Regions from separate parts of the Homo sapiens genome. Here regions 1, 2, 3, 4 and 6 are each reported to be linked to region 5. Evidence: microRNA targets listed by miRTarBase, many of them from high-throughput screens and not tested one by one. Region 5 holds a microRNA gene; each other region holds the end of a gene's coding sequence.
The links. Region 5 holds the annotated microRNA hsa-miR-26b-5p (UUCAAGUAAUUCAGGAUAGGU, at 2,959-2,979, shown strand). A microRNA usually pairs through its seed, bases 2 to 8, with sites in the 3' UTR of a target mRNA and lowers its output. Matches are read on the target gene's strand: a 7mer-m8 pairs with bases 2 to 8, a 7mer-A1 pairs with bases 2 to 7 and ends in A, and an 8mer does both.

Region 1: miRTarBase lists DCHS2 as a target of hsa-miR-26b-5p. The part of its 3' UTR that is shown has no 7-base or 8-base seed match.
Region 2: the mRNA of GDAP1 is a reported target of hsa-miR-26b-5p. Seed matches in the 3' UTR shown: 7mer-m8 at 2,642-2,648.
Region 3: miRTarBase lists ADGB as a target of hsa-miR-26b-5p. The part of its 3' UTR that is shown has no 7-base or 8-base seed match.
Region 4: miRTarBase lists LUC7L2 as a target of hsa-miR-26b-5p. The part of its 3' UTR that is shown has no 7-base or 8-base seed match.
Region 6: the mRNA of BMAL2 is a reported target of hsa-miR-26b-5p. Seed matches in the 3' UTR shown: 8mer at 1,140-1,147.

The regions. Positions count from the first base shown.
Region 1 is chr4:154,231,174-154,235,245 of GRCh38, forward strand. DCHS2 (dachsous cadherin-related 2) reads right to left here. Exons shown (of 20, transcript NM_001358235.2): 20 at 569-4,072. The coding sequence ends at 3,363. All of the region lies in intron 12 of LOC101927947 (a long non-coding RNA gene), which reads left to right. Among named protein-coding and RNA genes, the nearest start is that of DCHS2, 260 kb to the right of the region's middle.
Region 2 is chr8:74,363,593-74,367,675 of GRCh38, forward strand. GDAP1 (ganglioside induced differentiation associated protein 1) reads left to right here. Exons shown (of 6, transcript NM_018972.4): 6 at 393-3,284. The coding sequence ends at 775. Among named protein-coding and RNA genes, the nearest start is that of GDAP1, 15 kb to the left of the region's middle.
Region 3 is chr6:146,814,868-146,818,956 of GRCh38, reverse strand. It overlaps ADGB (androglobin), which reads right to left. Exons shown (of 36, transcript NM_024694.4): 36 at 3,495-3,925. The coding sequence ends at 3,740. Among named protein-coding and RNA genes, the nearest start is that of ADGB, 220 kb to the right of the region's middle.
Region 4 is chr7:139,421,996-139,426,084 of GRCh38, forward strand. It overlaps LUC7L2 (LUC7 like 2, pre-mRNA splicing factor), which reads left to right. Exons shown (of 10, transcript NM_016019.5): 10 at 168-1,459. The coding sequence ends at 345. FMC1-LUC7L2 (FMC1-LUC7L2 readthrough) reads left to right here. Exons shown (of 11, transcript NM_001244584.3): 11 at 168-1,459. The coding sequence ends at 345. It overlaps LOC100129148 (a long non-coding RNA gene), which reads right to left. Exons shown (of 3, transcript NR_033999.1): 2 at 1,290-1,390. Among named protein-coding and RNA genes, the nearest start is that of KLRG2, 60 kb to the right of the region's middle.
Region 5 is chr2:218,399,699-218,403,787 of GRCh38, forward strand. MIR26B (microRNA 26b) reads left to right here and starts at 2,948; the gene lies at 2,948-3,024. It overlaps CTDSP1 (CTD small phosphatase 1), which reads left to right and starts at 170. Exons shown (of 7, transcript NM_021198.3): 1 at 170-459; 2 at 1,866-2,014; 3 at 2,413-2,517; 4 at 2,651-2,707; 5 at 3,337-3,429; 6 at 3,534-3,719. The coding sequence starts at 393. RefSeq lists silencers at 1-147, 218-297, 458-617.
Region 6 is chr12:27,419,866-27,423,954 of GRCh38, forward strand. It overlaps BMAL2 (basic helix-loop-helix ARNT like 2), which reads left to right. Exons shown (of 17, transcript NM_020183.6): 17 at 531-4,089. The coding sequence ends at 667. The region is part of intron 1 of BMAL2-AS1 (BMAL2 antisense RNA 1); the gene reads right to left. It also overlaps a transcript of SMCO2 not described here. Among named protein-coding and RNA genes, the nearest start is that of BMAL2-AS1, 25 kb to the right of the region's middle.

The DNA.
Region 1 (4,072 bases), not on the chromosome of region 5:
TTTTAAAAGTCCCTACCCATCTACTTTCTTGTATTTCTCTACTTGTGTCCTAATTATTCATTTTAAGATTTAATTGTCTATTTCTCTTCTGTCCCTGCCTGCCTCTCCCCCTCCCTTCCTCTTTCACTTTTCTCCTTCCATCTTTATAGTGGGTAAAAACTCCCACTGAAATGCTTCGTTTGGGTCCTAAGCAAATCTTCTGCAACTCCACTGGATCCCAGTATCCCTCCTGTACAGGACCATCTTCCATTCTAAGTTCCTTCAGTTATGGCCAAATAGATGTCTCTATACCTTTGAGCTCAAGTAAAACACGCTGTGAAAATAAACTCAATTTGCTTATCTGGAATATCACGTGAGAATACACTGACCATATTAACGCCATATATTTTATTGCTTTGAAGTGGATTATCTTAGATCCTTAGTTATGTCTTGCTTTTTAAAGTTAAGGTATGTATAGAATGGCAGAACAAAAGTAACAAAGTGTCTGTTTGGATGAAAATAACTAAAATTTACAATTAATTTTCATTGCTATAACTTCTAGAAAACACAGCAAGGAGGGCTAAAGGTGAAGGTGCTGAGAAACACAAATCCTGTCTCAACTGGACGTCTATTATAGATTGAATATGAATACATGGAGGCAGCCAGTAATGTAGAGTGCATTTTAATAATTTTTAAAAGAGTTAAATGATCAAATCCCTAAAGATACAGCATTTTTCTTTTTCTTTGCCCAGGAATCTGTTTTGGAAGCCAATTCAATGATTACTACTAGGACATGGAATTTTGATATCCATTTGGTACTGATTTACACCAGTATTTTTAAGGCTGCCAACAAGAAAGTCCAGAATTTCATCAGGCAGCCAAAATTCCACAAGAGACAACTGTCTTTTATTTTATAGCTTATGAATTTGGGGCTTAATATGATTTTCCACTAACAAGTTCTGTACCCCCTCCAGAGTGCTAAAGCCAGTGCATAGATCAGCAAAGTAACCCAGAACATATGAGGCAAGTTAATATTAAACTTGAAGGAAAAATGTACAAATTATATTGTTTACTTAGGAAAAAAAGCACTCTAGTTGAAAGAGCTGACATACGATTTATTGCAAACACTTAACCAGCGTGTTCACATTTTTAACCCCATTCCCACTTGTAGTACTTGTTTGGTGGCATTGTGGCACTGGATACAGACTGATAAACCCATCAATTAAAAATCCATTAAATATTGGTAAAAAAGCTCTATTACATGTCTTCTCTTGTTATGCAATGGCTAGAAAACATACAGAATCACATCCATAATGAGTAAATAAATCACAGTAATAAATAACTAACTTAGGGAATAGGTAGATGAATAACTCTTTTTAAGCATAAGTAAATGAAGAACCTGTTTAATTAAAAACAACAAAATGTTCTTAGTTTCCAGAAATAATTCTATTGTGAAAAGAAAACTTCCATATATAATTAGGAAAATATAGTATAGGGTTTCTTTCTATGCTCAAAGCAATGTTTTCAAAAGAGTCAGAGATAATAAATACTGGAACACATAAATGATTAAATATGTGTGGGTTTTTTTTTTACATAAGTCATGAAATCTTCTTCCCCAGATGCCAGGAAGAAAAGGAGAAACATCATATATCAGTCCCATAGTATTTAAATTTTCTACTCCTAAAGGATTTTTCCTAGGATTTCAGGCTTATTCAAAAACCTTCATGTTTCATACAATTTGTAATATAGCTTTATACATTTGTTCCCAATCTCAGTCAGCATAGATAGATAATAGAAAATATCAGCATAGGAAGCTGTAGAATTACTTATCTACAAAACCAGACATCAAACACTGCACCTTGCAATATTTTTTAGTAAAGAGAAATTATGTCACAAAATTTCACAGATGAGGCCTATGGAAGAAGAACACAAAGGAACTATATCTGTAGTAGAAGCCCATCCTAACTACTAAGAAAGCCACACGATACCCTTTAGATTTCACATTAGAATTCCTAAACTGTTAGCCTAACACCTGGCCCTCATGCTGACCACAGGAAGAGGACTTCTGAACCACCATCGTCAGGATGCTGTCCACCTTCCTGAAAGGGATGAGAATCTGTGAGGGATTCCCAGGCTTATCAGAAAGAAGGCTAGAGCATTGTATGTGAGCACCATCTAGCACTGCTATATTTCTAAAATAGTAATTGTACAGAGTCATTTTAACCATGTGCCAAACTGCTCCATCTAATGACAGTTAAATTAAAGCTGCAAGTGTGTGAGCAAATGGTAAAAAGACTTCTGACTTCTATTCTTAACTTTTATAGTAGAAACATTTCCATAAAAAACTTCATTTAAAAATATATTGCTAAATTACTCTATGAGATTTATCATTAGCTAATGACATGATTTTTATCTACACAAATTTTAAAAACTGACATTGAGTGGATAAATTATTTCACACAAAAAAGTTACTGTATCTAGAAGAAAATAAAATGAAGACATTGCTATAAATTAACCTTTGAAGTTTAATGTCTTTACCCACACCTACTTATAAGACAAGACCTGAAAAAAAAGCCATTCTGTTTGTAAAGAAGGCCAAGATAATATGTTTCAGGTGGTAGCAAACCACATAAATATTGCGAGTATCAATCCTGGCCCTCTATCAGGAACATGCATTTCTGGTTTATTGAATCATGAATAATTATTTATATTACCTATCATTATAAATCCTATTTGTTTCTCCCTATTGTCACAGAGTTATGACAAATTTCCTTCTGAATTTTTTATTAGTTTTCCAAAAGACTCCACATTGAAATTCAATTATGGCTAAACTCTACAGGTGTGGTATATGGGGAAAAATGGAGAAATACTCCTCTAAATATATCAGATCCACCAACTATTGCTTTATCTTAAAATGAAAGTTTATTCCTCTAGACTTCCCCTCTCTGCTATATGTTCTGACCTAAACTCATTCTCCATTTAGCCTTTACTAGTTTGTTTTTGATATAGCAGTGTGATCAGCAGCAATGTGACCAGAGTACACTATATTTTGTTTCCATATAAACATTCTGGCAGTCAGTTAAGTTCACTGTGTCCTTTGGAAGTCTAATCATACAGACAACAGGTCTGACAGAATATACACTACTTAATATATACAAATGTGAGTCCTGAGAGCAACACATAAGGATTAAAAGAGGAAATAACTTTTCATTAAGGCTGGAAGAAATTGGAGAAACTTTAATGGGGAAGTTTTAAAAACTCTAACTAAATTACATCACTTGCTTTTAGATAAAAATGAGCCCAATCTCGAGTTGCTGGCTTGAAAACATTTTGTTCATTCATTCATGACCAATGGTGAGCAGGTACTTGGCATCCCAGTGGTTTCATATTTGAACTTCATCTTCTGCTTTAAGTTCATGGCATGTACCACTGATGTGTGTTCCTAATAATTCTCCTTCTCTCAACAGTGGAGACAAGGCAGGAGGCTGCATCGTCAATAGGGAAAGAGATGGAGAAAAATTGGGAGTCATGCCTTCTGGCAGAGAACCAAGATGGTAGGGGATGGGAGAGCGTGGGTGTTTCGGAGGCACCTGCCCCAGGTTTACTGCCGGCATTCTTGGTGGGACTGCTTTAATCCCAGGCTGGGCTACTGCTGTTATCAAAGGGGGTGGAAAAACAAAAGATTTCTTCTCTTTTGGAATGCCAGGCATATGCAAATGTTCATCCTTTAGTTTTGCAATATCATTAAATACTGAGGCAAGAGGTTGGAATTTGGGCTCCCAACTAAGAAGATAATTCCAGTGATAGTTGTCTTTTCCATCATGATCAGAGGTCGTCTGAGTTGAAAGAGCTGCACACCTTACTTCCTGATCACCTGAAATAAAGACAGACTCTTTTCTAACGTCAGCCAGGATGCTCTCTTTTGCCTCTCTCTTCTGAACTGTCTGGGGTAACACATTATTTTGAGCACAGGTGGTGCTGCAGCCTTCCCCTTGATCTCCTTCCCCAAATGTTTGGCTGGCTTCTGCTGTTTCGGCAGTCACCATCACATCAGTTTCCCCAGATAGGCAGGAGAGCTGGTCTGAGTCCCTCG
Region 2 (4,083 bases), not on the chromosome of region 5:
GAGTGATGTTTCAGACTCAGCTTTATGGATTTTTCTAAAGCAGAACTGTTTTTATAAACCAGAAGGAAGTTTCTTTTAACTAGCTTGGAGGCTCCCAACCCCTTAGTGTCCTTTACAAAGTGATAAGCTCAAGTGGCTGCAATCTTACATAGGGACCTGGATGGCTGACAGACGTCAAGCAAGTCTCCTTTGGCCTAGGATACGTTTGCATGGACTTTTTTTTTAAAGCATGAAATTATTCTCTGAGTGTGGCTGTCAAGAAAATAAATATATAATGTCCTTCATCTTTTGCTATACTCACACTCACCCTTAAGGGTGAGACCACTGATACCAGCTGGAGTCTGTCTGTAGAGTGCTTGCCTCTAATTCTCTATGTCCCTTTCTCTAATTAGAAGAGGGCCAGCAACCTTGGCTCTGCGGTGAATCCTTCACCCTGGCAGACGTCTCACTCGCTGTCACATTGCATCGACTGAAGTTCCTGGGGTTTGCAAGGAGAAACTGGGGAAACGGAAAGCGACCAAACTTGGAAACCTATTACGAGCGTGTCTTGAAGAGAAAAACATTTAACAAGGTTTTAGGACATGTCAACAATATATTAATCTCTGCAGTGCTGCCAACAGCATTCCGGGTGGCCAAGAAAAGGGCCCCAAAAGTTCTTGGCACGACCCTTGTGGTTGGTTTGCTTGCAGGAGTGGGATATTTTGCTTTTATGCTTTTCAGAAAGAGGCTTGGCAGCATGATATTAGCATTTAGACCCAGACCAAATTATTTCTAGGTTTGTTGGGATCTTGTCGTGGCAGCTCATCCAAGCATTTAGCTAGACCCTGTGATTGCCCGTGGCTCTCTGAGTCTGTCTTATTGAGTAGTTAGCAGTATTTTTTCCTAAAATTCAGAAGTCATCTTTGTTACACAACACAGGGGTTCAGGTAGCAATAGGACACAAAATTGCTTTATTCTACAACTGCCAGCTCCAGGCAGAAATAGGAAGGCAAAGAGATAAGAGAAGGAAAAATGAGAGAATGAAGTCTGTATAGGGTAGAGCAATAGAAAGTAAGCTTCGGGTGCCTCCAACGTTCATGGCTGCCTGTCTCATTGGTAAACCTCACATTTAGTTACTTGTGGCTACTGCCCACACATACACTTCTGTAATTGAGAACTCTTAGGAGAGGACTAGGGAATCACTGGGGATAGTGGGCTGGAGAGAACCCCAGGCTTTATATGTATACTTTGACCTCAGTGTTAATTTTAAATGCTTATGAATCACACACATTGCTTTAGTAAGATTAAGTGCTTATATACTAGAAATTTGATGCTCATTGGAACACATCTGCCTAGCATTTCTGTAAAAGTCTTAAGTGATATTAAGATGATTCCTTACCATTTCAGATGGTCCGCAATTTGAATTACCAAGTGGTAATGGTTCCTTACTGTTTTAGATGGTGCCTGTGAGATACCATTCCTCTGGATGGTCATGTCCAGTCAGTGGGAGGTAGAAAGGGTGGCATCTGTAGCCCTCTTCATACACATAAGTGGCATTTAGGTGAATGTCCCAGCTAATCACTAGCATGTCTAGGTATTGGCTGGGTAGTGGGTATTTTGATGATCTGGGAGCACCAAATATGTTCATTCTTCGTTTGGGGAGGCTGGTCTGTAAACACAAAAATTGTTGTCCAGATCTTTCATCTGTTTATGATCATCAACAAAGACTTGTTAGAAAGGTCTAGTCTTAGCACTTGGCAGTTAATCTAGGGAAGATGAATTAAATGGGTAGATAGTGATGCATACCTGTATTCACTGATGTATGTTTAAGGGATTTGGGGGGGATACCTCAGTTCATGTGGAAGGGACAGTCTCGGTGTGTCCCATGAATAACCTTGGAACTGCAACAAATGGTTTGTGCTCAGAAAAAGTCTTTCATGGTGACAGGAAGACAGTTTCCCTGGAGCTGGCCATGAAGGCCTTAGAAGCCATTTCTGGTGTCTGGTGGGTAGCAGGCATAGAGATGATGTGCCGAGGTCCCAGTGAACAACAGTAGCCAAAGAATGTACTAACTTTATCATTAATAGGAAAGTCATACCTAGGAAACAATGACTTTTTGATGGCAAAATGATTTTTTAATTCTATTTTGATGCTGTAATTCCATTTCATGACCTAGTTGTATTAGAAAACCTTGATGAACTATATGTTCCCGATTTACAAAAAAATTAATAAAACCTCCAGAGTAAACTCAGTCAAACAATAATTGAGTAGCAGCTTTTATAACATTTAAAATTTGCACATGAGTGTGTTGTCATATGGAGTGTCTGAATCTGTTGCTGGGACATACCAATCCATGTATTCATTAGAGCCATAGAAGTTATTATTCATTAGTTCATAGTGTTTGAGTTCTTTATGTCACTCTGTTAGAAACAAGAACTGAGTCGTGAAGAAATAAGAATTGGATTTTTATAAAAACCTCTGAAGGATATTTACCTATGAAAAAGTTGTTAAGAATAAAAATTAGAAGTCCATGGTTAACTTTTCCTTCAATTTATATTATTCCTGAATCATAGGGAATCTTTCTAGAATGTGTTTATAATTTCCTTGTACAGTTTCTTTGGAAATACGTTAAAGATAGTGGCAATTTCATATATTTCATGGATACTTGAGTTTGTGCTTTTAAGGTGTTTGTTTAGGGATACAATGACCACTAGATGTCGCTGTTTATCCAGTAGACTAAGATTGAGTGTTCTTTTTGTTCAGCAACTCTTCTAAAATGTTTCAAGCAAAGATAGTAATGACCTCAGTTTCTGAAATAAGGGCATCTTCATCAGATTATTCTTCTGTTTTAAAAAAAAGCTTGAGGCAAATGTGAGTGATTTCCAGTGCTTTGAAAGGGATTACAGTATCACACAATGTCAAGCTAGAGTTAAACACAGTATTAGCTAAATAGGCACTTATGTGTATTTTCTTTTTCATGATTATCGGTGACTGGTCAGTGTACTCATCAATTTCCAAAATTTGTATAAATATCACAATTAGAAAAATGCCTGAGGTACTAAAGTTATGTTGGCTTTTTGTGTCTTAACACACATAAATACTATTGTTATTGCAGCAGATGCCTTTTGAATCCATTTTCCATAATTGCGGATAGTCATAAATTGCTTGCTCAATTTTTAGTAATTATTGCTGTTGACACCAGCGTTGTAGATTTTTGGTGTTGTTGAATGCAGTAGAGAGACCAAGACACTATTCTGTAAGATCAATAAAAGTAATTGGAAAATAAATATGAACCCTAAAACAAAGTACTCACTTTGTAATCTTTTTTGGAAAACAGATATATTTTTTTCATTTAAAATCAAAGCATCATGTGGTAGTTAAAAGGGTAAAATAAGCAGAGGTTAGGTATTCAAGATACTTAGCTATAGGATGCCATATTTTCGTTATAACAAAATTGCTGACTCTTGCTTCATTTAAATATGCACGGTTAAAATGAATAGCGGCCTAAAGAATAACACTGATCTCTCAAAAAAAAAAAAAAAGAATAACATTGATGCTGCTCATTAATATAGCTCTGTTGCAGCCAGCCACCTACCATGGGAGAGCATGAAAATGATGAACACTGAGTACTTATCTTTGCAAAATAGTTTTCTTACATGTTTACTGGGTTTCAAGTATTACTCATATTTATGTATATTTTTGACATAGCTAATTCTCTTTTATTGAGTATGGATTATTCATATTGAAATTACCTTCTACATTTCTAGCTTAGTAAGCTTAGCCATTCTAATCAAGTAGAAATTGAGTACTTTCATTTTGCACTGAACAAAGCAAATTAAATGCAAGTCTAATTGGCATTGTTTTCCTTGAATTTACAAACAAGAACAAAGGGCAACAATACTGAATACTTATGGAAAGTCACCTGAATATCTAACTTCGTAGTCTGCTCAGAAAAAAAAAACAGTATGGTAAAGACATGAAGGTGAAATTAATGCAATAAATAAATCAGTATTCAGATATAACCATCATATTGTTTATGCCAACTATTGGCCCATTTACTTGATCTCTGCTTACCCATATCAGAATGTCTTGATTTTATAATAC
Region 3 (4,089 bases), not on the chromosome of region 5:
TTGGAAAAATAGCAAAAATCAGAAATAGAAAAAGCTTAAAGAGTAATAGTTTAAAAAACACAGCAGGCTGGGCACGGTGGCTCACATCTGTAATCCCAGCACTTTGGGAGGCCAAGGCAGGCGGATCATGAGGTCAGGAGTTCGAGATCAGCCTGACCAACATGGTGAAACCCTGTCTCTAAAAAAAAAAAAAAAAAAAAAAATTAGCCAGGCGTGGTGGCACACACCTGTAATCCCAGCTACTCAGGAGGCTGAGGCAGGAAAATCACTTGAACCTGGGAGGTGGAGGTTGCAGTGAGCTGAGATCACACCATTGCACTCCAGCCTGGGAGACAGAGGGAGACCCCATCTCAAAAAAAAAAAAAAAAAAAAAAAAAGGCACAGCAAGAAAAGTAAAAGAAAGCAAGTGAAAACTATCAAACAAATAATAGCAAAAAATATCTGAAAGAAAGTAATTGATCAAAAATACATCATTTAAATTATAATGACAAATTGTTTGCAGATGAATTTTTATCTAACTTAAAGAATATATAATATTAATGTTAGTACTTGAATATCCTGAATATATATATACACACACTACCTGAATATATATATACACACAGACACATATATGTATATATAAAATTCATAAATTTATGAATAAATTATGGTATATTTGTACCATGGAATATTTCATAACAATTAAAAAGAATTAACAGTGACTTCAAGAGATTCTGTGTTGTTTGGTGAGAAAAAGCAAGACACATTGTATTATGCTTTAAAGAATGCCATTTTGTAAAACAAACCAGGATATAATATAAAATATTGAGGTGTGAGCATATGAGATGAATGAAAAATATGGAAACATTCAAAATAGGTTGTTTCTATGTATGTACTTTGGGAGCTGGGGTCATAAGGTTGTGAAGCTAAGAGTAGGCAAAGAATAATGTAAAAATGCACATTTGCATTTATTAAGTAACATTACATATACAACTGGGGAGGTGTATAAAATATTAACTTTTTCATGTAAACTTAAAAAATTTTTTGAAAAATAAACATTGTATATTTTCAAAGTATACCACATGATGGTTTGATATATGTATACACTGAATAATGATTAATATATTCAATTTAATTACTACTATTGATTCTGATGGCACCATCCGTTCTGTGCCTGAGATACACAATTTGTCAGCTTATAACTAAATGTTTGTACTCTTTGACCAACATCTCCCCATTTCTCTCACCCCTAAGTCTCTGGTAACCACTGTCCTACACTTTGCTTCTATGAGTTCAACTTTCACAATTCCACATGTGAGTGAGATTATGCATTATTTTTCTTTCAGTTTCTGGCATATTTCACTTAGCATAATGCCCTACAGGTTCATCTATGTTGTTGCAAATGGCAGGATTTCCTTCTATTTTATGGTTCAATTATATTCCATTATATATATATATACCACATTTTCATTATTCATTCATCAATTGATGGACACTTAGGCTGTTTCCATATCACTATTGTAAATAATGCTGCCATGAACAGAGGGTTGCAGACCTCTCATAGACATACTGATTTCGTTTCCTTTAATATATACCCAGGAGTGGGATTGCTAGATCATATGGTAGCTCTAGTTTTAATTTTTTGAGAAACTTCCATACTGTTTTCTGTAATGGCTATTGCAATTTACATTCTCACCACAGTGTGTACAGGGTTCCCTTTCTCCACACCCTCCCCAACACTTATCTCTTGTCTTTATAAAAGCCATCTTAACAGGTGTGAGGTGATACCTCATTGTTGTTTTGATTTGCATTTCTCTAATGGTTAATGATGCTGAGTACCTTTGCATATACCTGTTGGTCATTCCTGTGTCTTCTTTGGATTGGTGTTTATTCAAGTCCTTTGCCCATTTTAAAACCAGGTTATTTGCTTTTTTTGCTATTGAGTTACATGAGTTTAATATATTTTAAATATTAGCCCCTTATCAGATATACAGTTTACAAGTATTTTCTCCCATTCTATAGATTGTCTTTTCATTTTGTTGTTTCCTTTGTCGCGCAGTAGCTTTTTATTTTTATGTAGTCCTACTTGTTTATGTTTGCTTTTGTTCCCTGTGCTTTTGGTGTCATCTCCAAAAGAAATTGCCAAGACCAATGTCAAGGAGATTTTTTTGTAGGCAATCTTCTAAGAGTTTTATGAGTTCCAATGTTACATTTAAATCTTTAATCTATTTAATTTTTTTATACAGCATAGGGCAATGTTCCTATTTTATTCTTTTGCATGTGGATATTTAGTTTTTCCAACATCATTTTTGAAACGATTTTCTTTCATCATGTGTATTTTTGGCATCCTTGTCCAAAATTAGTCGACCATATATGGGAGTATTAAATATTTTTAAGCTAGGCATGGTGGTTTATGCCTGTAATTCCAGCATTTTGGGAAGCAAGCTGACATGGATGGATCTCTTGAACTCAGGAGTTTGAGAACAACCTGGGAAACATGGCGAAACCCTGTCTCTACAGAAATTGGCCGGGTGCCATGGCTCCAGCCTGTAATCCCAGCATTTTAGGAGGCCGAGGTGGGTGGATCACCTGAGGTCAGGCGTTCAATACCAGCCTGGTCGACCTAGTGAAACCCCCGTCTCTACTAAAAATACAAAATTAGCCAGGCGTGGTAGCCACACCCCTAATCCCAGCTACTCAGGAGTCTGAGGCAAGAGAATCACTTGAACTCAGGAGGTGGAGGTTGCAGTGAGCTGAGATTGCGCCATTGCACTCCCGCCTAGGCAACAAGTGTTAGGAAAAAGCTGAGTGTTGGGACAAAAACTGAGGCAGGGCTTGCATGTCTGACATAATGTCCTCTGGAATGTGTCTAGACTTGCTGGCTCCTTGCTTCTAGCCCTCCTAGGCTCCTATTCCCATTATCTCAAGTAGCAGAACATGTTCCACATAAATGCTAAACCGTCACAGCTGTAGATGATGCGCCTGCCCTTTTGACCTCCACATTCTCACCACCTGTTTCTTTGTTGATTACCAATAAATAGCGTGGGCTCCCACAGCTCGAGGCCTTCGCGGCCTCCACGATCGCAATGGCCACTTGGTCCCAGCTTTCTCTCTCAAACTGTCTTTTTCTCAATCCTTTGACTCCGCTGGACTTTGTCACCCCCACGACCTGGTGTTGGGTATGATCACCCCAATAACAAAAGTGAAACTCCATCTCCAAAGAAAAAAATTAGGAGGATGGCTTGAGTCCAGGAGGTGGAGGTTGCAGTGAGCTGAGATTATACCACTGCACTGCAGTTGGGCAACAGAGTGAGACTCAGTCTTAAAAAAAAAAAAAAAAAAAAAAAAGGCATAATTCTGAAGCATAGTTATTAGTATTTTTAAACCTTTAAAGTTTAAGACTAAATTTCTTCTAAGAACAAAAGCCACTTTTCTCATTGCTGAAATTTTCAAAGATAATCATGTTGCTTAATTTATGAACTTGTTTCACTTCTAATTAAAAATGCAGGCAGTTTAGAGTGTCAAACATATTTTATTAAATATTTGGAAGCTATTTTATTGAAATTAGAGCATCTTAAACTCAAATGGCTTCAAATACTAGCTTTCTGAGGAAAACTAACAAGTTAGCATTAAAATATTTCTAAGAAAGAGAAATTTCTATTTTCATTTGGCCTAATATCTTAACAGCAGGCAGTTAAAGATCATTACAAATAGATTTTTTCTCTCCAGAAGCAGGGTAGTATTGGACATCCCCTGGTTACTTTTTCTTTCCTTTCTTTTTTTTCTGTGTGTCAGGAGCTGGGGTCATCTTTTCTGTCTCCAGCTTCATGGCTGCTTCCTGAGCAGCCAGAGTTTCCAGCTTTAGGTGCTCAGCTTCCAGCAATTTGTTTCTGTACTCTTCCCGGATGTCGAAAATTTTCTGTCGGGCTTCATCTAAGGAGTCCTGTTCCAAAGCAAAACCCCAAACAAATAAGTTCCACTGGTAAAGGCTTATGTTCCCAGAAAGAAAAAAATGAAATTCCTTTACCCTGTCCTTACGCCCACACATTCATAGGCAAAATGATTGAAGATGAAAATTAGTGTATGGTCTCAACAGCTTATCAGTAC
Region 4 (4,089 bases), not on the chromosome of region 5:
TATCAACTATGGTAGTGCTCTGTAATTTGTCAGAAAACTGACTCCTCTGTCATGGGTATATTCGTCTATATATCTTCAGCTATCAAGAGCTTAATATTTATCCTATTCTTTAATTTGGGTTTTTGGGTTTCCCAACATATTTTGCTCCTCAAATTAATATTTTTCAGATCCTCAAAAGAAAGATTCAGAGACCAAGACTTAGCATCATGTGACAGAGACAGGAGTTCAAGAGACAGATCACCTCGTGACAGAGATCGGAAAGATAAGAAGCGGTCCTATGAGAGTGCTAATGGCAGATCAGAAGACAGGAGGAGCTCTGAAGAGCGCGAAGCAGGGGAGATCTAACTAGCTGTGTACATTTCTTCAGTCCTTAAGCTTCCTACGGAGTTACGTACTATTGTTTAGTTCACAGCTGTTCAGGGTGACAGTGAGCAGATCCAGACACCAGATCCAGCTAGGCTAGATGTACAGTATCTAACTTGATCTGAACTGAACCTGTTTTCCTTGATGATGCCTAAAACTACATCCATAGTTTCTGGTGAACCTGTAATACAGTTCTGAAAGTACAGTTTTATATAATAAGATGCTGATCTCTTTATTCTTTCAAGTAAGAGTGCTAGTGAACAAATTGTGTTACTTGCCTTGGGATTTTTTGAACGTTTGTAAAATGCTGTCTTCCTAGTCCAAACAGCTGCAGCTTTGGGCATTTTTCTTTTTAATTATTCTTCCTCTGACTTTGTATCCCTTAATACCTACACTCTCCAATTGTAAGAGAAAGGGGGCAGGGAAGCAATATAGCTTCCATTCTAAGGCTGTATTCCCGTTATGAATTACTAGCTGATTACAGTTCAGAGCATTGATCCTGGAATGTGTGCTGGAGAAATTTAAAATACTGGGGTTTTTTGTTTAATGGTGCCTATTTAGAGTTGGAAGTTGAACAGCTGTTGCATTACATACTTTTGCTTTTTTATTGAAATTTTGAAATCAAACGTCTTGATTTTTCTGTTCTGTTGAATTGCTATGTTCAGGATGTTCTAGGGGGTGGGGGCAGGGACTCTTTTCGTAATAAGCACTTGTTTTATTTTGTGTGTGTGGAGTATAAAGGCTACACCCTTATTGTAAAAAAATAATAATAATAAAATGAAAGAAACAATCACCACCACCATTATTAAACTGTAACTTGTCTAGTAAATTGTCACTAGAACTATTTGCTGTGGGCATTTCCTCTATTCTGTTACGTCATTAACAGTGCCTTACTGTGCAAGGCACCAAAGGACATAAATACGTACTTGCAAAGATTCCAGATGAGCTGTTCATGTGGGCCCCTTGCTGACTATATTCCAGCCACTTCAGGGTTGTTTGTAATGACCGTTATAGAGAAGGGCTCGACCTGCAGAAGAAACTGGGGTGTTTTTATTCTCATTCAACAAACCCAAATAAAAACAGTATATGTAACCAACATAATGAGACTTAAGTTTCTGCCTTGAAGAGTTGTATATCCGTTAGTAACTTAAACTGTAATTGGCAGGTATCACTTGTGATTCTGGAAATTCTGAGGAACACAGATTCCTTAAGTAATGAAATTAGTATCTGTGGGTATCATTAACTAAGGTCACCTTTCAAGAACTGTTAATGTCCTTTGTCCCCAAGTTTGACAGATTTGATGTCAGAGGCATGTGGGCCTCTGTGAAGGTGCTGAGAGAATGGGAAACTAAGGCCATTCTAAGTGATACCAGATTACGTTAAAAACCCTCATCAAGTTCCCAATTTACCAAGCTATGCCTCATTAACTGAGGGTTTTCTGCTGTATTTGGTTCCACACATGCAATTTATATGGCATTTAATCTGAGAGACCCATCTGCCTCAGTGGCCCATTTCCCTTTTATTTTTGGTTGCTAAGAAATGTTTTGTATCTCCTTTGTTCCGGGTAGTCTGTGCTGTTCTAAATCCTTACAAGCACTTCAGATTTCGTACATTGGGGTTCGGAGTAAGATCAAAAGGACTAGCTGGTTGGTGTGAGGAAGAATGTCTGGGACCTGGCCCATTATAATAGTATATCTGGACTTAGATTTTGAACTCTAAAGCATATGTACAGTTGGAATGGAACACTTGTAGAAGTAACACAGGTCTATATATCAATGGTTACTGCAGCTGTGGTTTCTAGATGGTATAGGCTGCCCCAACATGAACAGGGCATAAAGCGCACCATCACTGTGGGGCTGCGTGCCACAGCGGACCACTTCAACCGCATGGCTCTTTACATGATTGATGCCACTGAATTAGAATAAAATCTCAAATCTTAATATCACTTTCTCATACACAATTTTTGGTCTTTCTGTGTTGGTGACTGGTAGAAAGCATAAGTAAGTATATTGTATTTGCAAAAAACTTTTGTCCCTCTGGGGAGTGTTTTGCTAAGTTTTTACCTTCAGTAAGGTTTCCTTCATTTTGCTGTCATCAAGTATTACCCTAAAGCTCCTTTGCTGAGCTTATCAACACCAACTAAAACTAAGGAAAAAAGCCTCCTTAAATAGGTATGTTTTTTATTTTTTTGAGACGGAGTTTCACTCTTGTTGCCCAGGCTGGAGTGCAATGGTGCAATCTCAGCTCACTGCAACTTCCGCCTCCTGGGTTCAAGCAATTCTTCTGCCTCAGCCTCCCGAGTAGCTGGGATTATAGACGTGCACCACCACGTCCGGCTAATTTTTGTATTTTTAGTAGAGACGGGGTTTCGCCGTGTTGCCCAGGCTGGTCTTGAACTGCTGGCCTCAGGTGATAGGCCCGCCTCGGCCTCCCAAAGTGCTGGGAGTATAAGGCATGAGCAACCCCTCCCTGCCCTACCCCTGCCAGGCTTGTTTTTTTTTTTTTTTTTTTTGTTTTTTGTTTTTTTTTTGTTTTTTTTTTTGTTTTTTTTTTTTTTGAGACGGAGTCTCGCTCTGTCGCCCAGGCCGGACTGCGGACTGCAGTGGCGCAATCTCGGCTCACTGCAAGCTCCGCTTCCCGGGTTCACGCCATTCTCCTGCCTCAGCCTCCCGAGTAGCTGGGACTACAGGCGCCCGCCACCGCGCCCGGCTAATTTTTTGTATTTTTTTTTAGTAGAGACGGGGTTTCACCTTGTTAGCCAGGATGGTCTCGATCTCCTGACCTCATGATCCACCCGCCTCGGCCTCCCAAAGTGCTGGGATTACAGGCGTGAGCCACCGCGCCCGGCCCAGGCTTGTTTTTTAAACAAAGACTTTCTTACCTGTGATTATTAGACCTAAAACCAATATACCTTTATCTTTTCCAAGTTCCCTCTTTCCCCTCCATGTTACATTTTAAGCATCTATTTTTAGTGATAGCTTTCAACATTGGCCTTTTGAGCCATCGCCCAGTATGCATTACAATTTCCACAAACACTTTTGCCATTTGATGTCGTAAATTCTTTCAAAATGGTTTTTAGGTAATGATTATGTACATCATTTAAGTTTTTCCGAATAAATGCTGATTATAATTGTTAAATGTTCATAGGTTTTTTTTTTTTTTTTTTTTTTTTTTTTAATGTAAGGTCTTCCTGTGTCACCAAGCTAGAGCACAGTGGCATGATCTTAGCTCACTGCAACCTCAATGTCCTGGGCACAAGTGATCTTCCCACTTCACCCTCCCAAGGAGCTGGGATTATAGGCACGTACCACCATGCCCAGCTAATTAAAAAAAAAAAATGTGTAGAGGCCGGATATGGTGACTCATGCCTGTAATCTCAGCATTTTGGGAGGCCGAGGCAGGCAGATCACTTGAGGTCAGGAGTTCAAGACCAGCCTGGCCAACATGGTGAAACCCCATCTCTACTGAAAAAAAAAAAAAATTAGCCAGGTATGGTAGCACACACCTGTAGTCTCAGCTATTCGGGAGGCTTAAGGCACGAGAATCGTTTGAACCCGGGAGGCAGAGGCTGCAGTGAGCCGAGATCGCACTCCAGTCTGGGCAACAGTGTGAGACTTCATCTCAAAAAACAAAACAAAATTACCGGGCATGGTGGCACATGCCTGTAATCCCAGCTACTCCAGAGACTGAGGCAGGAGAATCACTTGAACCCTGGAGGGGTTGCAG
Region 5 (4,089 bases):
GGGAGGCGACGCCCCCTGGAGCGCGGCAGGAACCCGGCCCGGCCCGCCTCCCAGTCCGCCTAGCCGCGCCGGTCCCAGAAGTGGCGAAAGCCGCAGCCGAGTCCAGGTCACGCCGAAGCCGTTGCCCTTTTAAGGGGGAGCCTTGAAACGGCGCCTGGGTTCCATGTTTGCATCCGCCTCGCGGGAAGGAAACTCCATGTTGTAACAAAGTTTCCTCCGCGCCCCCTCCCTCCCCCTCCCCCCTAGAACCTGGCTCCCCTCCCCTCCGGAGCTCGCGGGGATCCCTCCCTCCCACCCCTCCCCTCCCCCCCGCGCCCCGATTCCGGCCCCAGCCGGGGGGGAGGCCGGGCGCCCGGGCCAGAGTCCGGCCGGAGCGGAGCGCGCCCGGCCCCATGGACAGCTCGGCCGTCATTACTCAGATCAGCAAGGAGGAGGCTCGGGGCCCGCTGCGGGGCAAAGGTACCGGGGCTGCGGGGAGGGGGCCGAAGCCGGGGCGCCGTGGGAGGAGAGAAGGGGCCGGGATCTTCCCCAGGGGAGCCGCCGCCGCCGCCCCGGGCGGCCGCCTTAGCTGTGCCCGAAGCTCCCAGCCCGAGAGGGAGCAGGGAGAGAGTTTGAACTCAGAGGAGGCTCAGAGACGCGGGGCGGGGCCTGGCGCCTTTGGGGCGCTCCTGTTCGCTCGAGGTGAGGAAACTGAGGCAGGAATAGAGAGGGAACTCTTCGGGGGTTTCCTGGCAGGCATTGCGTGGTGCATGGGCGCCCCCCCACCATTGGCGCCAATGGGGCTGGGAGATGGGGGAGCTGAGGAGGGCGCCTATGGGCCACCCGCTGAGACTCCGCCCCACCCCCCACCCCCACCCCCCCGGGCTGCGGTCCGGTAGGGTCTTGGGAGGGGGCGCCGAGGTGACAGCAGGCTGGGGAGGCTTGGAGGGATCTCCCGCCAACACACAGCTACGTTCCCCACAAACTTCGCGTCACGCGTGGAGGCGCCGACCCCCTCGGAGGCACAGAGAGGACGGCCGGCACTTCCAAGAGTCGCTTGGCGCCCGCGGGGAGAGTCGTGCGCCTAGTGGGCACGCACCACCCCGCAAAGCCTCGCCGCCCCGACGAGGCTGCGTCCCCCAGCGTGGCTGGGCCGGGGTGGGGGGGTCTGTCTTCTCCTTTTCCCCGTGTGGACCTCAGGATCTGGACGCTGCCCCCAGGTCTGCCCACCCTCGCCTGGGTCTGGCTGCCCCGGAACTGAGGGCAAGGTGGAAAGGCTAGTTGCAGGGGGCCGGAGGGGGGTGGGGTGGGAGGGGTATCTGTCAATCAGGCTGCTGGGCTCCAGGTCGGAGGTCTGGGCGGGGCAGGGCAAACAGATGGCCACTGGACACTGGCCCCAGGCCGCGGGACTGCACCCCTGCCTCTGGGCCCAGCCGCAGTGAGGACTTCGTACCCACGGGGGTGGAGAGGATGGAGGGAGGGCAGGGGTGGACTGCCCTGGGTCCCAGGCCCTGGCTGTCCTGAGCAGGGGTGCTCAGGTAAGGTGGGGTCAGGAGGCACCGCAATGGGGCTGATCAGCAGCAGTCATGGAGGCTGTGAGAGGCAGGGAGAGAGCACCCCAGGACCTCCTTCTCCAGGCCACGCACTCCCTATGTGGGCGCCTTAATACCTGCTAGACCTATTTGTCTGGGAGCTGCAGGAGCCTTGCAGTTGATTGTGGAGCCCTGACAGGGGCGTTTCAGAGAAAGTCAGGAGCTGCCTTCGTGTGTCTGGATGAAGGGGCCACGGCAAGATCCTCCTGGCTCAGGGGTTCACACCTGGGCACACATGCAGGATTCTGCAGGCCAGTGTGCACCGAGCCTCCAACTTGTGCCTCCCTACTTCAGGTGACCAGAAGTCAGCAGCTTCCCAGAAGCCCCGAAGCCGGGGCATCCTCCACTCACTCTTCTGCTGTGTCTGCCGGGATGATGGGGAGGCCCTGCCTGCTCACAGCGGGGCGCCCCTGCTTGTGGAGGAGAATGGCGCCATCCCTAAGGTGCGTGGGGGCCAGGTGGGGCCACGGGGGCACCTGGACTCAGTCTTCAGGGCTTTAGGGGAAGGGGCTCCTGACTGAGCTTTTCAGGATGGACTTGCAGACCTGAAAGGTGCAGAGTAGGAGGGTGGCAGCCTCCCCTGCCAGGCCCTGCCCACTGTGGGGAAACTGAATTCTCCCTCATAAGTGGAAGCTTTTTCCTACCTTGGTTTTTAGAGAGGTCTCAAAGAGCCAAGAGGCCTACCCAAGCCCTAGAGCTGGCAGGGGCAAAGCTGGGAAGGGGGAAGTATCTGTTCCTGGGGCCTGGGGTTCCTCTGGAGACGGCTAGGGGGAGAAGCCTGCGTGGGAGGAAGGACCAGGCCCGGAGAGAGGCACCCCAGCCAGCCCCGCCCTCCCTACAGCAGACCCCAGTCCAATACCTGCTCCCTGAGGCCAAGGCCCAGGACTCAGACAAGATCTGCGTGGTCATCGACCTGGACGAGACCCTGGTGCACAGCTCCTTCAAGGTGGGCCCTGCTCAACAGCCCTCAGCCCGGGTCTCGGGGGGCATCCCCCACCCTGGCCTGGGAGGGAGGTGTGTGCTGGACCCCATGCCCTGGGGCTCCTCCTCCAACTCCAGCAGCTCTTTTCCCCCCACAGCCAGTGAACAACGCGGACTTCATCATCCCTGTGGAGATTGATGGGGTGGTCCACCAGGTGAGGGCCAGGAAGAGGCAGTGGTGGGCTTGGCATCTGCCTCCAGACCCTAGGCTCTTCCCACCAATCCGGAGCGCCTCGGATGGGAATTGGATACATGTGGAATGTCAGAGGCCCAGAGAGGGTGTGAGACTTGTCCCAAAGTCACACAGAACCTCAAGGGCTTGTGCTGACTCCAAGCCTGCAGAGTGGGCTCCTCCTCTAGGCTCCCCCGTGCTGTGCTCCCTCGCCCCACCCTGCCCGGGACCCAGTTCAAGTAATTCAGGATAGGTTGTGTGCTGTCCAGCCTGTTCTCCATTACTTGGCTCGGGGACCGGTGCCCTGCAGCCTTGGGGTGAGGGGGCTGCCCCTGGATTCCTGCACTAGGCTGAGGTTGAGGCAGGGGAAGGGATTGGGAATTAGGGACCTCGTGAGGTAGGACTGGCCAGTGGAGTGGAAGTTTTGATCGTTTTCTGGCGGGGGGTGGGTACAGTTTCCCCAGCAGTGGTCAGGGTAGCTGGCCAAGCGGAGCCTGCGGGCCCAGTCTCCTTCCTGTGCGCCTCTGCCTCCCTGGCCCATGCCCTGCCAGCCCTCGGCCACCCCCACACTGCCCCACTGGCCCGCAGCCCCCTCACTGGCCCGCCCCCCAGGTCTACGTGTTGAAGCGTCCTCACGTGGATGAGTTCCTGCAGCGAATGGGCGAGCTCTTTGAATGTGTGCTGTTCACTGCTAGCCTCGCCAAGGTGAGCCCCACAGGGGTCCCGGGGCAACCCTGCCCTCCTACCTACCTCCCGCATGCAGCCCAATGAACCTGCGGGCCCCAGGATGACCCACCTCCTGCTCCCAGTACGCAGACCCAGTAGCTGACCTGCTGGACAAATGGGGGGCCTTCCGGGCCCGGCTGTTTCGAGAGTCCTGCGTCTTCCACCGGGGGAACTACGTGAAGGACCTGAGCCGGTTGGGTCGAGACCTGCGGCGGGTGCTCATCCTGGACAATTCACCTGCCTCCTATGTCTTCCATCCAGACAATGCTGTGAGTGCGGGCTGGACTGGGACTGGGACAGGAGCTGAGACCCAGGAAGGGGTCAGTCCATTCAGGCCACCTTGGCCTCTTGGATCCCCAGTTGGGGGGTGGGTGCCCTCCCAGTCCTTCCTGCATTCATTGCCTGTGCCTGCCGCCCACTCCCCTCATCCACCTGCCCTGTAGCCATATGGTCTTTTCCCCTCGCACAAAGCAGAGCATCTGCCATGCACAGGGGCCCCCACAGGGCAACGGAGTTTGGAAAGTTTCAATTTTTCGAATTGCCAGTTGTGACCTACTGATGGCCCACAGAATTAATTTAGTGGGTTCTGATTGGGAATTTTAACAAAATGAAATAGAATAGAAAATATCCGGTCGGGTG
Region 6 (4,089 bases), not on the chromosome of region 5:
TCCTTTTTCAATAAAAATCTGATTTATCTCCCTTTTATAAGAAAATTCCAAATCTTTAGAAGATGCTTCTGTCTCAGGCTTCTCATTTCAGTATTAAACAGATAGGGTTTTTTCATAAGCAGATTAAATTTTCTCCTTCCAGGGTTTGCGCGTGCACACACACACACACACACACACACACACAAACATACACTAAATTTCCTAGCTTCCTTCCAGCTCTCTGAGAGTCTGTACCCTTTAGCAGTGTAATTTCCTATTAGAAAACTCATAGACTAGCTTACTTCTCTGTAGCAGATGAATTAGGTGCAATTTATCTGACAGAAGATTGTTATAAAACTAGGTAACCCATTTAAAAATACATCAGCCATCTGCAGCTTAAGATATATACTTTGCCTTCAAAAATACATTTTATGGTTTTCTAGCCTTGCTTTGCCATTTTTTATCACAATCATTTTTTAACCTCAAAATGTGTGAAATGTATGACTTTACTGATCACCTTTACTTACACAGGCCTGTATTTTAATTCATAGGTGATGGTGCACAGTTGGATTTCGATGCCCTATGTGACAATGATGACACAGCCATGGCTGCATTTATGAATTACTTAGAAGCAGAGGGGGGCCTGGGAGACCCTGGGGACTTCAGTGACATCCAGTGGACCCTCTAGCCTTTGATTTTTAACTCCAAAAATGAGAAACATTTTAAAGCATTTCATTTACGAAAAACTGTCTCAACTATTCTTAAGTACTGTATTGATATTGTTTGTATCTTTTATTAATGTTCTACCACTTTTTATAGATTTGCATCTTCCTGTCACAGGGATGTGGGGAAATACGTTTTCCTCCCAAGAGAACCAAGTTTATTATAGACTCCTTTATTCAGTGAAATGGCTTATAATCCACTAGTTGCCATATTTTTGCTAAAATATTTCTAACCAAGAATACTACTTACATATTGTTTTGGCTTTGTTTTATTTTTGATGCAGTTTTTTTTAGTTGAGGTAATGTAATATATTGATGTTTTCCTTTGTGTCTAAGATTCATTTATAATAGTAGGTTTGTATAATTTGGAACATTTTCCATTCCTTGCGAATTTCCTTAATTGAGGATAGGGCTTACACACTTTAAGAAAACAGTGAGTACTTGAACATTTAAAGGGACAGTGCAATTTATAGTCATAATCACATTGAATACTGTATTTGATCTTTGGAGACTTAGGCAAGCACAGAGCTGGGATATTTATGCTCAGTTGAGCACTTTAAGATGAATTTTAAGTGAGATGATTTCTTGCTTAAAACTCAGAAAGTCAAAAGAGTTTCAGCTTTCCTTACAGAAAAGGAAGGATCTTGGGCCCTAGATCTTGGGGATTAACCTCTGCATATAAGATTTACTCTTAATAGGCCAGACGTGGTGGCTCACGCCTGTAATCCCAGTACTTTGGGAGGCTGAGACGGGCAGATCACTTGAGGTCAGGAGTTCAAGACCAGCCTGGCCAATATGGTGAAACCCCGTTTCTACTAAAAATACAAAAAAAATTACCCAGGCACTCACTCTTGAGGTAACTAACCAACTCCCACGATAATGACAGTCCATTCATGAGCGCAAAGGCCTCATGACCTAATGGCACACACCTGTAATCCCAACTGCTTGGGAGGCTGAGGCGAGAGGATTGCTTGAACCTGGGAGGCAGAGGTTGCAGTGAGCCGAGATCGCACCACTGCACTCCAGTCTGGGCAACAGAGTGAGACTTCATCTCAAAAAAAGTAAAAAAAAAGATTTAATATAATCACTGAAGATCTCTATTATAGATAGATTAGGTTTTTGACATTGGAAACATACTTAGGGATAGATTTGTCCTAAAGGAAAAAAGTAGGCCCGGGCAGATTAAATGTCTTGTGTAAAGTCACACATTAAATTCAGTCACACATTAAATTCATAGAGTTTTAAATGTTTAATGTATATAAACCAGTTTCTTTATACACATTTGGGAAAACATTGGTCTCACAGATTAAATGATTAACTAACTGACCCAGGAACTAGTTGTAGCTTTCTAAGTAATTAGGCAATTACAGTTATTGCCTGTAACCAAAGGTAATAAAACAAAATGACAAGTACATGTTTAAAATTATGAGGCAATGAGAAATAATTTAAAAACCAATTTTCTAGTTATAATTTAAAATTTGGAGAGCATTTTTAACAGTAATTAATCCAGAGGTGGCTCAAATTGAGTATAAGAATTAAGATTATTTAAAATACTGCATGTCTACCTTCTCGGGGATCATACTTTATAACACTTTCTGCTTCAGTAGCTCTTCATAGCTTGCCAAGTATGCTCCCATATTTTCTCTCTCGTGCCTCGCAAATGAAAGTCAGATAGGCTGGGAACTCATGGGGCAGCCCTCAGACTTCAATGTGGGCTTCAAATCCAGTTTCCTGTTCTATATGGTGCTACATCTTTCCAGAAAATTTCCCTCAGAGCCCCTCGCCAAAACAAAGCATTATTTTGACCCTGCATGCTATTTCTTTAGCTGTAGGTGATAGATTAGAACTTCTGTCAGACATGTTAATGACAAACATACCAACAGACAATAACCAAAAGCAAATGTTTCCTTCAAGTGTGAAATGTGCAGGGGCTTCGTGGGCAAGGATGTATTGGCACACTGTCCTCTTGAACTGATAGTGTCCCAGCAATGTTGGAGGGTTGGCACCATTCCTGGTCCGACACTTGAGGACCTGAGAGACATCAGGTTTAGAATGAGCCAAAGAAATCCTACAAGATGGGGAGAATTGGTGTGCAGCAGCCTAAGTGTTATAGTTAAGTCTAAAGAAGTATGAAAGATCCCCTGTGTTCTCTAAATTGAGCAGAGGGGCCTGCCTACCAATATCACTTTTTAGGGGACTGAACCATTGCAGGTTAGACTTGGCTTCCAAAGAGTCTGCCTAAGCCAGGGGTGGCAGGGTAGGCCATCATAGCTGGATGGCCTCAAAAGCAGATGGGGGCAGACTTGCCCTCGTGATGCCAGGATTTGAGAGGCAGAGTTTCTAGAGGGAGACCAGTGCTGCCTCTCACAGTGGCAGTTTTTTCTCTTTGCAAGAGGAGGGGCTGTTCAATTCCATAGACCAGTGGGCAGATAGCCAGTTGAATACTCTGTGCATGGTTTGATCCTTTATTAGTTCGCTCTAATATTTTTCTGTAGATCCTTTTGTCCTGGACTCAAAATCTAATCCATGCATTGTATGATACCGTAGCTCTCCTAAGGTTTGTGTTTCCTTCAAAATGTTTTAGTTTTCTTCAACTAAATTTGATTTTTGCTGTTAGAAGTGACATATTTTTATGGTATACACTATGTTCCTTTTTTCTACTGCGAGTCAATTTTTTGAATTTTCGTGAGAAAGAATATATCTACAAATTGCACGAAAGTATCATAAAAACAGTACTCTAGACTTTTCTTTTCTTTTCTTTTTTTTTTTTTTTTTTTTTTTGAGATGGAGTCTCGCTCTATCGCCCAGGCTGGAGTGCAGTGGCGCGATCTTGGCTCACTGCCATCTCTGCCTCCTGGGTTCACGCCATTCTGCCTCAGCCTCCAGAGCAGCTGGGACCACAGGCGCCCGCCACCACACCTGGCTAATTTTGCTTTGTATTTTCAGTAGAGACGGGGTTTCACCATGTTAGCCAGGATGGTCTCGATCTCCTGACCTCGTGATCCGCCCACTTCGGCCTCCCAAAGTGCTGGGATTACAGGCATGAGCCACTGCGCCCGGCCTACTCTACACTTTTTTTAACCCTAAGAATTACCACTACAGTAATGTAGTGGAGTGGGAAGAGTGCCTGGAATCAGAAGACCCTGTTGAGGCTGAATTTAGCTGTATGACCTCATGCAAGCCATTTAAACTCTGTGCCTCAGCGTCCTCATTTTTAAAAGGAGGTTTGATCTCTATGTTTACTTCCAGCTCTGATTCTGGGATTCTAATCCACAGGACTTGGGTGTTAGGGTGGAACCTAGAACTGTGCTGTCCAGTGCAGTAGCCACTAGCCACATGTGGCTACTGAGCACTTGCAATGTGGCTAGTACAAAGTGAGATGTGCTAT